2 linked regions of the Homo sapiens genome follow. The protein of the gene in region 2 purifies or fractionates together with the protein of the main gene of each other region. This does not show direct contact. Each region holds a gene or a part of one and is shown on either strand. Other genes may lie near its edges.

Region 1 (4,606 bases), on a different chromosome or scaffold from region 2:
TAACACTCACTCATAGCACACATTCAGTGTGTGATTGCTGGAGTGAATGATTGAAATCATCAGCTGTAATCCTTTATCATTGTTAGTACAATCACTATGCCCAGTGGGTACTAAACTCATAATTTCTCATCATTTTGACCCACTCAGAAGCCTGAAGTCAATGTTATCTCCAAACATATGCAAGCACTTTCAACTGTATGTCCTTAAATCAGCACCTAACCCAAAATTCATTTGAGCATGGTGGAAGGAATGATGGGCCCTGGGTGTGGGGACCTGGGCTGGTGGGAGGAAGGTAAGTGTGGCCCCTGCCCCACTGTGGTCCTTGTAGTGGTTGGTTCATAGCACAGGTCTACAAGTGTGTGTATCTACACATGTATGGACCTTATTTTGTGTAATATATATATATGTACATTATATATATTATATATATATTATGTATATATATATGCATATGTATAATATATATAGGGTCTCCCCAAATTATATTTTAATTGAATTTTTATAGATGAAGTCACATATTAAAAACTTTTGTTTTCCAAAGACTATTTTAAGGAGGCCTGTGAGAGATATTTGGTAAAGCAAACAATTAAACTTTGCCCATTTAAATTTAGTAATATCACATTTCTCAGAGTGAGGGACATAGTCACAACATACATGTGCAGAGTTCAGCTGCACAGGTGCTCAGTTGAGAGGAATGTCACTGGTAACTGGAAATCTTTCCGTAAATTATGAAAGTGAATTGGGTCCTTTTATCGGCTTTGCTTCTTCCTAGGTAGTACTGTGGGAGGATTTACCTGAATACAAGTAAGGGGGTAATATCAGATTACCTGCTTTCTATTAAAAATATCCAAACTTGAGTTTTTTTCTCAGTTTCAGGTTAATATCTGTATGGTCACTAGGCTCTGAAAAATTGACCTTATCTGTCATAGTTTAGACAAAGAGCAGAAGCAATAAATTATAAATAATATTAACAACTGGCTGGGTGTGGTGGCTCACGCCTGTAATCCCAGCACTTTGGGAGGCCGAGGCGGGTGGATCACTTGAGATCAGGAGTTCAAGACCAGTCTGGGCAACATGATGAAACCCCGTCTCTACTAGAAATACTAATATTAGCCGGTCACGATGGCAGGCGCCTGTAATCCAAGCTACTCGGAAGGCTGAGGCATGAGAATCGCTTGAACCTGGGAGGCAGAGGTTGCAGTAAGCTGTGATCGTGCCACTGCACTCCAGCCTGGGTGGCAGAGTGAGAATCTGTCTAAAAAAACAAAAAACAAACTAAAAATATTAACAACCAAGATAACCAGTGCAGAGACCCCACTCAGAGGGTTTGTCTGTTCCCTGGCTACAATACCTTAGATTTTTTTCTCCTCTTGTTTGATGAACACATACAGTCAAGAAGCAGTGCCTGAGAGGGAAGGGCCACTGTATTAAACATCAGGATTCAAGATTCTTGTTCCAGATCTGCCTTGCTCAGTAACCTTGATGAGCTCACTTAACCTCATTGCACTTTGGTTTCTTCATCTGAAAAAAATGATGCTATTAGATCTCAAAGGTCTTTTCCAGTCCTTGATTTTGTAATTACCAAAGCCAGACTACATTAAAATGAACAGATGAAGCATTTTAAATACCCTCACTTAGGATAAGTACTCTGTTTAAAAATTCTACTTGATAATGTTTGTTTCCCCAAAGCATAAAGTGCTTTATATCTAAAGTTGAAATAATCCCTACTCTGTCCAGGCTTAGATTGGACCCCAAACATTTAAAAGATCTAAACATTGGCATCTAGGATCCTAGCAAAAATGGACAACACTATCATGAAATGTGATACTTTCAAAGAGTATTTACTATTGACAATCAGTAATAAATGTTGATTTGTTATATTTATAATAATTCATCATCAGCAGCAACATTTATTGCATTGATCAGTTTGATCTGTTTTCGAAGTTATGTGAGATCAGGGCTTCAGGCAAAATTTTAAAAGTCATTTTTGTTATTTAGGAAAGAAGTGCTATCAAAAAGTATTCATTATTTTATTATTTTGAGTTTTTTTGGTGATGAATCTGTATAATATCAAGATACAGATATTAGAAACCAAAGTCAACTTCAAATGAACTCTTTCCGCTGTCAGAAATCTCTTGGATCTGTTTGGAGCTGGTTTTCACTTATACTGAATAGATTTGAGAAATGACTGTAATGCAGGGGTCTTAAGTAGAACAGAGAAAGGAGTCTCTCTGAAGCTCTCTTTGGGGAGTTACATCCACCCTGATGATGATACAAAATACTGATGGATTCCAGAGTTTCTGATGATGTGTTTTTCTAAGCCAAACAATGGTTGAGTAAAATTCCCTATCAATGACACAGACATCTCGAGATGGGGAGAATTCTGAGCTTTCTGATGCTATTAACTCTCTCTTTTTCAATTTAGTTGCACCAACTATCACATTTCTCGAATCTCCAACCTCAGACCACCACTGGTGCATTCCATTCACTGTGAAAGGCAACCCCAAACCAGCGCTTCAGTGGTTCTATAACGGGGCAATATTGAATGAGTCCAAATACATCTGTACTAAAATACATGTTACCAATCACACGGAGTACCACGGCTGCCTCCAGCTGGATAATCCCACTCACATGAACAATGGGGACTACACTCTAATAGCCAAGAATGAGTATGGGAAGGATGAGAAACAGATTTCTGCTCACTTCATGGGCTGGCCTGGAATTGACGATGGTGAGTAACTGACACTTTTGTATGTGGGGAGAAGATAAAGTCTATCATTCACCTGTTGACAAAATCATGTATACAATAAGCCATCCCCCAACCTAGTGGCTTAAAACTCCATTATTTAGTGTTGCTCATGGATCCATAGGTCAGCGGAGTGGTTTTATTTTGCATGTATTTATTGTGGAATTCAGGGTCATGAAGCAGCAGCTACATAGGAGATGTGCCTGTTATGATAAGTGTGGAGTGAAAGAGGACAACTGCAACGATGTGAGGCTTCCTAAGGCCTAGATTCAGGGCTGGTGCACTGGACTGTCTCTTCAGCTTATCTGCCATTGGCCAAAGCAAGTCACAGGGCCAAAGCCAAGTTAAGGGGCAGGGAGTTGTACTCCTCCCAAGAAGGTGATGAGGAAATTAATAATTTTGAACAGTTATCTGATACACACTGGATTAATAACTACTCCAGGATGCTTGGGTATCTTATGAGAAAAGGGTTATTATTATTATTTCCATCACTGTTGCAAGTATTTAATGAGATTTTGTACCCACAATGGCAAAACCCATGCAAAACCGCAAGCGCAGGAACTGTGTATGGTTGGCTCGTGATGCATTTAAGATTTATTTTCTAGCCTCTTACCTAATTCAAAAAGGAGAATTCTGGTTTCTCATCCATGGATGAGAAATTAGTGTCTTGGACTGTTTTGCTTACCCGGGCTGACTGAGCTGAGTGATTCTTTTATTGGCTCCGGAGCTGTTTTCCTAGGAGTGGTAATAGTGCTTCTCTGGCCAAAGGCTAGGACTGCGGAAAGGATGGCTAGCATCAGGGGTCTACTCTGGGCACAGCAGGAGCGTGTCAGTGTGAGCTTCAGGAACAGTGGGACAAGTGTCATGCATTTACCTGCTTCAGATGCTGTCCTTCAGTGGAGTGTTCTTACCTACTCAGTCTCATTGCCCAAATGCTTGCTACCAATGTGGTGGCCAAGGCCTGTGTTTGGATGTTGGGAGCTGTACATGAATAGAGTTCCTCATCAGAGTAGCTCTGAGTCAGTCAAAGTCATGCAAAGATGACTTGGTGGAGAGAAGGGAAAATAGAACCCTGGGGAGACTTGTAAGGCAGGGGCTGCTTGGGCTGCATGTACCTGTGTGGCTCCCAGGGCCCCCCCACCAGCAAAGGTGATCCATGCAAAGCCATCTCTGCAAAACAATAAACAAGAATGCAGTCCTTCTCATTACATGATAAGTTCCTATTATTTTGCTCTTCACTAGACCTCTTTTTAAATGCACAAGCTTGCTTAGTATATTCAAAATGTGATTTGGAATATGTGTTTGATTTATAAACAGTAGCCCTTCAGGAGCACATAAAACAAGCAATATTTGGATGCAAAACCCAGACACCCCTGGCTGTTGCTGTCTTTTCCATTAAATCTTCCTCTTAATTGAGAGTTTAGCTGCTTGGCTATGGTTGCTGCAGTAAATCCCTAGCTTGCAGTGTGCAGGAAGTCATGTTTGAGGGAATAATAGCTTCACAGTTAAATCCAGAGACACTGATTTAGGACAGTAGCTTTTTGCTTGTTCTTACATAAACTTTTTATTTCTGAATAATTTTAGATCTGTAGAAAAGTTGCAAAGATAGTATAGAGCGTTCACAGCCTTATCACCTCCCCCACCATTGTTAATATCTTACATTACTTTGGTACATTTGTCACAAATGAGAAACTAATATTGGTACATTACTAACAACTGAACTTCAGACTTATTTGAATTTCACCAGTGGCCCTTTGAAACTCTTGGGGGCAAAACTTGATTCAGAGTGAAGGTCTGCAGTGAAAAGCTGTCAGAAGTGGTCTGAGTCTTTTGATATCAATGCACAGTACTGTTGGTGTA
Region 2 (5,712 bases):
CTCCGGTGCACATTTATTGCCTTTACTGCCTACGCTGCAGCAAGTAGGCCTTGTCCATGAGCTATGGGCAAAATCAAGGTCCTTACTGGCCTTGTATCTGTCCTTGCTCAGTCAAGATGTGGGCAAATGAAGATTTGGCCTGTGCCCTTTTGCAGCTCAGATTTCAATGAGATCAATGAATACATGCGAAATACTAAGATAATAATACTTAGCAATAGATAGCTAATATGAGAATGCTGAGGGAATTCAGAAAAAAGGAAAGATTATGTGATCTGGGATTCATTCACATGGGGAACCCTCAGGAGAAGATGAATCTTGGAAGAAATGTCAGATCTGGGTTGGCAGAAAGGAGGGGATTCCTGGTAGGCCAAGAATAGGAGCAAAGTCACTGTGGTGGCTGCAGGGGAGCATCACACAGGCTGGGCCTTATGGAGGAGGAAGGGGAATGCTGGAGAATAGTGGGTGACTGAGGGAGGGGGTGGCTTGTAGTACTCAAACAAGTATGAGTTGAATAAAGACAAATAGAGATCACGGGTAGCTTGGGAGACCGAAGTTGACTGAAGCTCTTAAATGCCAAATGAGGAGATTGTAAATACTGTGATTGATAAATGAGAATCCTCCTAGGTTTGTAGGGCATGACTTGCTGAAAGTAATTTTTAAAAGACCAGTTGGTTGATTTATTTGACATGGATTGAAGCAGGGAAAAATTAGAGACTTGGAGGACAGTAAGAAAGATACTCTGAGAGTTTAGGTATGAGGCAATGAGAACACTGATTAAGGTGGAGAGGAGAGAAAGGAGGTGAATGGTAAGGCATTCTGTGACAGAAGAATGAGAGAAGCCTCAACAACCCTGGGAGATTAAGCAGATCATTTCAAATCATAATATAACTAATAGAGTAGTGAACATTTATGGAGCAGTGGGTAGATTGATTATTTTGTTACCATTGTTGTTTATTGGGGTTGTGATTGATTATTGATGGAGGGTTGTAAAGGGTGAAAAAAAAACTTTCAAATTGAAGTCTCAGAATGACATCAGTGATGCCAATGACTGAAGCAGAGTAAATTAGGAAATGGACTCATTTTAAGTTTGTTTTTGACATATTAAATTTAATGTAATTATTTGTAAATAATGCTAATATGTAGGTAGACAGTCATATAAAACTAGCACTCAGGCGAGATGTCTGATCTGAAGGTATAGAGAGCTAGCCCAAGAACTGTATTACAGACAATTAGGATCTCAGTATTACAAACAGACAATTAGGATCTCAGGGAAGTTCAAATAATAAACACTGGAAGGGTTACAGAGAGAGCAGGCTTGGGCAGTCCTGGCAAATGGGTAACTAAAACCTCTAAAGCAGATAAATGTATGGGACATGCAGCTCTCGCCCTCACCCACAGTGACATGGCACATAATGGAAATATTTTCATGTTTCTACTCAAAGTTCATGGGCATATTCTCATTTATCAAGATTAGGTGTGTGCCAGGCCCTCATGGGAAAACGAGTGAGTCTCCAAACCTGGGCTCTCTGCACTTGCCTTACCATCACCTACACATCCTCTAGCCTCTGCCTCAGCTTTCCTTTCCTCTTGTACCTCCTGCAACCTCCCCATACCCACACACCTGTACAATTTTAAATGTGAAAAGAGTTGCTGTGTGATCTCCAGTTTCCCTAGGGAGTGCCTCCTCTGGCGTTTTAGATTTTTAATGGGGGCACCATCTGTCTTTTCATGGCAATAATCACTGACTCCAGAAAAAGTGCTGACCCCACGACCCAAATGAACCTCACAAGATTGCCGATATCCGTGATGTCCGATACAAGCTAATGACATCTCTTATGAAGTCAAAATACGTGAAAGAACTTACTTATTAAGTTTTATAGAATCCTAACTTTGAAAGACGGAAGACTCAGAAGTTATCAAGGTCAATTCCTTAATGGTGAAACCAAACCCCAGGTTTTTCAAAGGCCACACAGATGAGTTAAAGCAGAGTGAGATCTAGAGCCCAAATCTCCTGTGTGCCATTCTTATCTGTCTTCACCACAGGTTTCCATCCTGGTTGTTGTTCTGTTCCTCAGAATTCTTTTGAGATGTGAACCAATTTTGAAAAATGAAATGCTAAGCTATTAATTTACAGTAAAAATATCATACCAAATGAACCAAAGTTGTGAGCTCTGTATTCCCATCTGTAGGAAAAAGCACATAAAAAATTTTAAATCAAACCTTGCTTGGTAATAATGGATTCATAGGAGAGAACTGAGAGAAAGATGATCTTAATGGCTAGTTGACACAGGGCTGGTGGATTTAGGGGCAAAGTTTACAGGAAAAAAGCCACTTCATATTCTACCTTCTTATCCATATCATGTGACTGCTCCTCTCCCTGCCCCAACTTATTTGCTAATCCATTCATCCATTTATTTAACAAATATGTATTATGAATCAATTATGCAGCAGGAACTGTTCTAGGCACTGGGCATCCATGAACAAAATGAATCAGTTCTAAGCATCAGTAAACAAAAGAGACCAGGTCTGAATCATTGTGAAATATTTTAGTGAGCGGAGATAGGTTCAATTGAATAAATGAAAAAATATACTATTTCAGATGGCATTAAGTGCTATGGAGAGCAATAAAGTGGGGTAAGTGAAAAAGGCAGTAGCTTGGGTGGGAATGGAAGGCATATTACTCTTGGGTAAAAAGTGGGATTGTTATAGCTACTCTTTACTTTGTTTTCTTGCATATTTTCTCTTTATGATAGGGACTATATTTTTCATCTGCGCTAAGCTAGAGTTGACTTTGGGTTAAATATTCTTTTTAAAAAATGGTTCTTCATTTGGTCTTATGATGTAGAATAAATTATATAGCTGAAAACACTTTATGAATCCTGACCACCTGTTTTGAGTAACTTTAATTGAAGCTCAGACTTTGGACCACCTGAAGGTCTCTCAGGGAAGGGGGCCTAGCAAACCATTCTTTGAAAGATATTGAGCCAGAAATAGGACAGTGAGATCCCAGTCTGGGCAAAGTAGTGAGGTGGGCAAAGCCCATTAAATGGTGTCAAATGTGACTTCATTCTCCCCATAAGACTGAGTCTCCTTTCTTTAGAGGCCTTTCCAAGTCCATTCATCCATCAGCAGACATTCATTTAAAGGTCTCCCAGGTGCCCAACATAGTGGGGAATGTGGAAAATCTACAACGTGACAGTGTTCTCCTCTTTAAAATGAGAGAATTGGCTTGAAAGCCCCCTCGCAGCACCAGTATTTAATGAATGTAGGGTTCCTTTCTCACACGGGAGGTGTTGAAAATGTTAGTTTCCTTTCCAATTCTCAACTTGGCTCAAAGACTTAATAAAGCAGAGGCAAAGAAACCAACCTTGACGAGCTTTGGCAGGTAACTGCAGTGGCCCTCACCACAACCCCCTGAGGAAGGCCGTGTTCTCCAGGTGAGGACACTGAGAGCCCAGGTGTCTGTGATCCACAGGATACTTCACAACTAGTAAGTAGCAGACTGAGGATTCCTAACCAGGTGTGTCTCACTCCAATGTTCCTCCACTTCCCAACCTCTCACTTGCCTCCAAGCAAGACAGGCAGCCTCTGAAGTATGGGAATGGAGTAGCGTAGATGAGAGGCCACACTGTGCAGGATAGCCTCATCATAGGACCAGCCCATGGAACTTGCCTTGTGATATGCATTTGCATGATTTCAGTCTCTTCACTTCAGCCCAGCCCAGCCAACTGTTTCCCAGATCGCATTAGTTTCCTAGGGCTTCTGTAACAAGTCCCACAAACTGCGTGGCTTACTACTATAGAAATCGATTCTCTCACAGTTCTTGAGGCTGGACGTCTGAAATCAAGATATCAGCCAAGTCACGCTGTCTCTAAAAGCTCTAGGGGAGGAATCTTAGAGCTCTTCCTTGTCTCTTCTAGCTTTTGGCAGTTGCCTGCAATTCTTGGTGCTCCTTGGCTTGTAGATGCATCACTCCAATCTCTGCCTCTGTCTTCACATGCATTCTCTCTGTGTGTCCATGGCCAAATTTCCCTCTTTTTTATAAGAACATCAGTCATTGGATTAGGGCTCACTCTCATCTAATATAATCTCATCTTTATTTGATGACATTTGCAAAGACCCTATTTCCAAAGAAGGTCACACTCACAGGTTCTGAGGGTTAAGACTTGGGCATATCTTTTTTGGTGGACATAATTCAACCCAAAACAGTCCCCAAGAGCATTTATTGCAATGTGTTTGCTCACATGGGCCTTCTTGGGTATCAAGCTCATCAGCTTTGTGTGCAAATAGAAATTTGTGTTGAAAGATTTTCTTTACTTCCTTTATAAATCCCACAGTATACTCTTACCATCCGTCTTCTCCTGTCTAAGGTATCTTATCACTGACCCAGTAAACTAGTATTGTCAATCATCTGTTGTCTAGACTAGATGTAGTCCACAGTACCACAATGTTACATCTACCTCAAGTAGCTTTTCCATAGGAGAATACAGGTCTAGGAGTTTGGAGACGTGCATTGAAGTAACGGCTCTGACACTAAGCTGTGTGATCTTGGGTGGGTCACTTCACCTCTGTGGGCCTCATTTTCTCATATTTAAAAGAAGTTTCAGCCAGGCACAGTGGCTCATGCCTGTAACCCCAGCACTTAGGGAGGCTGAGGCACGCATATCACTTGAGGTCAGGAGTTCGAGACCAGCCAGGCCAACATGGTGAAACCTCATCTCTACTAGAAATACACAAATTAGCCGGGCATGTTTGCATGCACCTGTACTCCCAGCTACTTGGGAGGCTGAGGTGGGAGGATTGCTTGAACCTGGGAAGTGGAGATTGTAGTGAGCTGAGATCATGCCACTACACTGCAGCCTGGGCGACAGAGCAAGACTCTGTCTCAAAAAAAAAAAAAAAAAAAAAGAAAGAAAGAAAGAAAGAAAGAAAAAGAAAAAAAGAAGAAGAAGTTTGAACAAAATGCTGCTTAAAATCCTGAGACTCCAGGTCTTCTTTCCTACCTGTTTGAAACCCCTTATTATTAGGATCTCTTTTGGTTAGAAAGAGTTACCTTGAGGAAATAATGTTTATCCACTTTATGTTAGCAGAGAAGAGAAAGAATGTCCTTCAGGGATGCATTCACTTCTATTTTAGCACCCTCTTACTAACACTGAGCTGGCTTCACCAGTAAGGCAGAAAGGAGGGTGTTATACTGGCATGGGTGGAGGCAGTAAGTTTTAGAGAGATGGAGGGTGGTAGAACAGCATCCAAGAGTAGAATTCCAGGGAGGGGTGAAGGGTGGGCTAGTTCGGGGGCAGGCCAGGGTTGGAAGAGGTGAGCGATAGTGGATGGGATTGTGGGAACATGGCATTCCTCATGTGTCTGGCCAGCTAGGTCTGACTGGACTTGGTGTCCAACAGGAGGACTGCAGAAGTGACAGAAATTAAGCCATCTCTATTTTCTCTGGACAAAAGAGCCAAGAGAAAAAGGCCTTGCCACACACATAGCCTGGTAACTCTAACCTTGAAAGAGGGAGATTTGTGACTCCAGGAGACTCCTGGAGAGACAGTCCCATGGTTTACACAATGAAGCCAGACCTGGGTCGCTCAGGTACCCACAGCAAAGAAACATGGCTTTCTGCCTTTGTAAATTTCCTTCTTTTCTAAGTTATTGGTGGTTGAGAGGGAGGTAGTATGGATGGGAGGAAATAATTCCAGCTAAAACTGATGA

The links.
Region 1: the proteins of SHC4 (region 2) and NTRK2 purify together in Homo sapiens (affinity purification with western blotting, with the first as the bait; one study listed by BioGRID). This does not show direct contact.

The regions. Positions count from the first base shown.
Region 1 is NC_000009.12:84,725,229-84,729,834, forward strand, and holds part of NTRK2 (BDNF/NT-3 growth factors receptor isoform a precursor), read left to right. Parts: intron 1-2,425; coding exon 2,426-2,731; intron 2,732-4,606. UniProt on the Homo sapiens protein: Receptor tyrosine kinase involved in the development and the maturation of the central and the peripheral nervous systems through regulation of neuron survival, proliferation, migration, differentiation, and synapse formation and plasticity.
Region 2 is NC_000015.10:48,956,171-48,961,882, reverse strand, and holds part of SHC4 (SHC-transforming protein 4), read left to right. Parts: intron 1-5,712. UniProt on the Homo sapiens protein: Activates both Ras-dependent and Ras-independent migratory pathways in melanomas. Contributes to the early phases of agrin-induced tyrosine phosphorylation of CHRNB1.